Regions from separate parts of the Homo sapiens genome. Here region 2 is linked to region 1. A link means that fine-mapping ties the variant in region 1 to the expression of a gene that starts in the linked region. Tissue or cell type: whole blood. Region 1 holds a variant in brackets; the other region holds the start of a gene. Each region is shown on its reference strand, or each on the opposite one. Region 1 has its middle 43 kb from the start of DUSP22. Region 2 holds the start of NLRP3 (NLR family pyrin domain containing 3).

The links. PIP is the estimated chance that this variant, and not a neighbour inherited with it, causes the effect.
Region 2: NLRP3 starts here. The variant in region 1 is fine-mapped to the expression of NLRP3 in whole blood (TOPMed, PIP above 0.99).

Annotation. Positions count from the first base shown.
Region 1 is chr6:248,209-251,021 of GRCh38, forward strand. No RefSeq gene overlaps it. Among named protein-coding and RNA genes, the nearest start is that of DUSP22, 43 kb to the right of the region's middle. The variant G/A (reference allele first, on the strand shown) is at 1,506.
Region 2 is chr1:247,414,773-247,417,585 of GRCh38, forward strand. It overlaps NLRP3 (NLR family pyrin domain containing 3), which reads left to right and starts at 1,401. Exons shown (of 10, transcript NM_001243133.2): 1 at 1,401-1,421.

The sequences.
Region 1 (2,813 bases):
GGGAGCCACAGCGCCTGGCCAATACTTACTATTATTTGTCTAATTATAGCCATCCTCATGGGTGTGAAGTGATATCTCATTGTGGTTTTGATTTTCACTTCCCTAATGGTGGATAATTTTTGGGCATCTTTTCATATTCTTGTTGGCCATTTATATATCTTTCTTAGAGAAATGTCTGTTCAGATCCTTTGTGCATTTTTTTAAAAAATAGCTTATTTTTCTTTTTATTATTGAGTTGTAGATGTTCTGTACTTATTCTAGAAGCAAGTTACCCTTCTATTCTGAATATATTTGATTTGCAAATATTTTTCCCATTTTGTGGGGTTTTTTTTTTTAACCTGATGGTGTCTTTTGCAGAACAAAAGTTTTTAATTTTGATCAAGTCCAATCAATCTTTTTTTTTCATTTGCCACTTTTGCTTTGTTGTTTTATCTAGGAAGACTTTACCTAACTCAAGGATATTAAAATTTACCTTTAGTACTTCTTCTAAGAGTGTATAGTTTTAGCTCTCACATTAAGGTTTATGACTCATATGGATTTAATTTTTGTGTATGTAAGAAAGGAGTCCAACTTTATTCTTTTGCATGTTGATATTCAGTTTTCCCAGCACCATTTGTTAAAAAGATCTAGAGAGAGGAGGGTAATACTGGACCTACTCATAAAACCACCCGTGCTTGATTTTCTAATTTCTAATTTAAAATTATATCTATGAGTCTAATAATTTCCTAATTTTTAAAAATATTTTAATTTTTAATTTTGTGGGTACATAGTAGGTGTATGTATTTATGCAGTACATGAAACATTTTGATACAGGCATATAATGTATAACAATCACATCAGGGTAAACGGGGTATCCATCTCCTAAAGCATTTGTCATAGCTTTGTGTTACAAACAATCCAATTATAATCTGTTAGGTATTTTAAAATGTACAATAAATTATTGTTGACTGTAGTCACCCTGTTGTGATATCAAATACTAGATCTTATTCATTCTAATATATATATTAGAATATATACATATATTCTAATTCATATATATACATATGTATAAATAGAAAAGAAATATATATATTTCTTTTTTTTTTTTTTTGTAGATGGAGTCTCGCTCTGTCACCCAGGCTGGAGTGCAGTGGCATGATCTTAGCTCACTGCAACCTCCGCCTCCTGGGTTCAAGTGATTCTCTTGCCTCAGCCTCCCAAGTAGCTGGGACTACAGATGCACGCCACCATGCCCGGCTTATTTTTGTATTTTTAGAAGAGACAGGGTTTCAGCATATTGGTCAGGCTGGTTTCGAACTCCTGACCTCAAGTGATCCACCTGCCTCGGCCTCCAAAAGTGCTGGGATTACAGGCATGAGCCACCGCACCCACCCATTCTAACTATATTTGTGTACACTTTAACCATCCTTCTGTCCTCCCCACCCCAGCCCTTACTACCTTCTGGGAACCATTCTTCCCCTCTGTATCTCCATGAATTCAACTGTTTTAATTTTTAGCTTTCACAA[G/A]TGAGTGAGAACATGCAAAGTTTGTCAGTCAGTGCCTGGCTTGTCTCACTTAACATGATGACCTCCAGTCCCATGCATATTACAGCATCTAATTCTTTTCTATGGCTGAATAGTACTTTATTGTGTATATGTACCACATATCCTTTATCCATTCATCTATTGATGGATACTTAGGTTGCTTCCAGATCTTGGCTATTGTGAATAGTGCTGCAATAAACATGGGCATGCAGACATCTCTTCAGTATAGTGATTTTCTTTCTTTTGGGTATATACCCAGCAGTGGGATTGCTGGATTCTAGGGTAGCTCTATTTGTCAAAATTGATTGGCCACAAACATAAGGATTTATTTCTGGACTCTAAATTCTCTTCCATTGATCTACATGTCCGGCTAGTACCACACTGTCTTGCTTACTGTCACTTTGTAGTAAGCTTTAAAATCAGGACGTGTGAGTCTTTCAACTTTGTTTTAATTTTTCAAGATTGTTCTGGTTATTCTTGGTGCCTTGCCTTTCCGTATGAATTGTATAATAAGCTTGTCAGTTTCTGCCGAAAAAAAAAAGCCAGCTGGGATAATGATAGGGATTATATTGAATCTGTAGATCAATTTGGGGAGTACTGCCGTCTTAACAATAAGTATTGAGTATTCCAATCTATGTTCATGAGATGTCTTCCATTAATTTAGATCCTCTGTAATTCTTCCAATGATGTTTTGTACTATAGTTTTCAGTGTAGAAGTCTTGAATTTTTTGGAAAAATCTATCCTTAAAATATTTTATTCTTTTTGATACTATTATAAATGGAACTATTTTCTTACTTTTATTTTCAAATTGTTCATTGCTAGTGTATAGAACCAACCGACTTTTGTATATTGATCTGCTACCCAGCAACCTTAATGAACTAATTTTATATGCCTAATAGTTTATTTTGTGGCATGCTTAGAATTTTTAATATTAGATCATGTCATCTACAAACAGAGATAGTTTTACTTCTTTCTTTCCCATCTGATGTCTTTCACTTTTCTTTCTTGTCTAATTGTCCTGGCTTGATCCTCCATTGCAATGTTGAATAGAAGTGGTGAGAGTGGACTTCCTTAGGGCAAAAACATTCTGTCTTTTACCACATGTGTAATGTTAGGTGTGGTTTGTTTGTAGATTCCCTTGATCAGGTGGAGGAAGTTCCCTTCTATTCTTAGTTTTTGTGTGTTTGTATTATGAAAGATTGTTAAATTTTGTAAAATGCTTTTTTTCCCATCTCTTCAGATGACTATGTGGTTTTGTTGTCATGCTATTAATACAGTGCATTACATTG
Region 2 (2,813 bases), not on the chromosome of region 1:
TGCCCGCCACCACACCCAGCTATTTTTTTTTATATTTTTAGTAGAGATGGGGTTTCGTCATGTTGGCCAGGCTGGTCTCAAACTCCTGACCTTGTGATCTGCCTGCCTTGGCCTCTCAAAGTGCTGGGATTACAGGCATGAGCCACTGCACCCAGGCTGAGCTCCTTTCTTTTGGAGCATATTTGGTCTGCTTTCTCTCTAGCTTCAGCACCTGAAGTTTTTGCTGCTCCTGCCTCAGCTCCAGCCCCGAATGACACCTTTCACCTGGTTCATGGAGACTCAGGTCTGCTGTCATGCCCCTAAGCAGGACTAGATGCCTCTCTCATGTTGTAGAGCATTCTCTCTGCAGTTCTGTAGAAAGGTGGTAGTCATCGGAACCAACTGCTTATTCTAGCTTCTCTGTGCCAGGCTCTGTTTTAAAGGCCTCACGTTTAGCCATTCACTCAGTGTTTTCTGACAGCCTTCTAGGATAGGTACCGTTATTTGGGTTGATGTAGTGCTTGGTCAAATGCAGTATAATGAAGGGATCAAGGAGGGGGCAATTCCAAGCAAAACCACTTGTTCATCCATCCTGAGTCTAGGAGATTTGGAAGATCTAAAGAAGTAGCAGGCAATTATTGTCACCCTTTTACAGGTATGAGGCACAGACAGACCCAGTCATTTGCTGACATCCCTCCACTGAACTGGGTGCTCGTCCTTTTCACTCACCCAGAGGCTGAGCGAGTGCCTCTCACCCACCAAGCTCTGTTGAACTTGTGCCTTTGCCGGTCTGTGGTCCTGCGGCCGTCTCATGAGCTGCAGAGTAGGTCTGTGTGTGTCTCTCCTCAAGCTACTCAAGCTGAGGCTTTGTGTGCATGCCTGCCACATACCAGCCATTCCGTGAGTGTTAGTGGAACAGGTGAGTCAATGAGTCAGGGAGTAAAATTTGTGCTTTAAAAGTAGAACATGTCGGAGAGAACCTGTACTGCCTTCCAGCCATCTTGCTGTGAGAGGACAGGGCATGGACTCTGGAGTTTGAAGGCTGGGTCAGGTCATGCTCTGGATTCTTTACTCACTCGCATGGCATGTCCTTAGTTTCACTTCCCTCACTCTCAGTGGAGCCGTTGCAGCGGGCAGTGTCAGAGGCAACATCCATTTAGCACTGCCGATTTGACCCCCAGCCCCATCTCATACTGGCCTCCCACCCTGCTTCTGTGGGGTGCCTCAGAGGAGAGCAAGGTGAACCCCAGTATGGAACCGAGACACGGTTTTGACAACACTGTTGATCCCATTTGGAAAATCCAGCTATGTGATTAACCATTAGTCTCTCTGCCTCTGCTCTGATGTAAGTGGAGACCACATCCTTCCTGCCCCTTCTGGGGCTGCGACTGCTATAAATTCATTGCATTTCCTCTCTAGCTGTTCCTGAGGCTGGCATCTGGGTAAGTCCAGCTCCGCGGGGCAGTGTGGGCGACAGGACCGGGAGAGCAGTGGGGGAGATTGTGTTCAGAGGGCAGAACTTGTCCTGGTTAATGCACTAGGAATTTCTTCTGGCGTCTCCAAGGTTGTGCTTCAACAACATTTCTGGAATGTTCTTTTATCATTATTTGGGCTCTACGTGTGCAAGTTCGTGTGTGTGTATGTGGCGGGGGGAAGCGGGGAGGACAGCGGCAGCAACCATAGTTTACACCCACGACTTCAGCAGATTTGCCCAGTATCCCTCCCAGGGGAGAAGATGGATGGGATATACAGAAGGAAACAAACCTCCTTAAAGACCAAAGGGCAGCAGATTTTTGTGCTGGTGTTAGGGTGGAAGGAGCACAGAAGAAAGGCAGAATCCTGATGCAGATGGAAGGACTGATGGGGCAGGAGCTGGGAGGGTATGCGGAGCTAATAGGGCTGTCTGGAGAGCAGTCACCTCAGGATGGGCAGGAGCTGGGAGGGTATGCGGAGCTAATAGGGCTGTCTGGAGAGCAGTCACCTCAGGATGCACAGGGCTGGGTTTGCAGGGCTCAGGAGGCGAGGAGTAGATAGGCAGGAATGGAGATGGGACGGGAGAGATGAGTGAGTCTGAGGCATCTTGACATTGAACTGCAGTCACAGAAATTCCAATTTGGAGAGCTCCACCGTTTTCCAGGCTCTCTGCCTCCCTTGAGTGTTATTTATGGCTTTAGGTTGAGGTGCTTTGCCAAATAGAGTATAATCAAGGGATCAAGGAGGGAACAATTCCAAACAAAGCCAACTTGTTCATCCATCCGGACTCTAGGAGATATGGAAGATCTAAAGATACAGCAGGTGATTGCTAGTTTTTGTGGAACTCACAGTCTAGTTGGGAAGACTATGTTGGTGAATGCTGCAGTGATACACCTGTGATAAATGCTGGGGAAGTGTGTCTTTTAGTCATCTATTTTGTTGTCTTTGTCTTTGTCTGACTGAAACAAGTGATGGAAGACATGGTCTCATATCTCTGGTCAAAATCCTGGCTCTGTTCCTTCCTGGTTCTAAACCCCTCGGCAGGCTTCCTAGTCCCCCTAAGACTCAGTTTATGCATCTATAAAATGGGGCTAGGAATAGGTGCACCTCATAGAGCTCTGTGCAGGTTAGATGGGGAAAAACATCAGTGAGTGCCTAGCCTGTGGAAAGCTCTAAATTAATGTGAATTATAATGATAACAATTGCGAATTTTGCAAGGAGACATTAAAGGATGTATGTTTTTATTTATTTTATTTTATTCTATTTTATTTTTTGAGATGGAGTTTTGCTCTTATTGCCCAGGCTGGAGTGCAGTGGTGTGATCTTGGCTCATCGCAACCTCCGCCTCCTGGGTTCAAGCG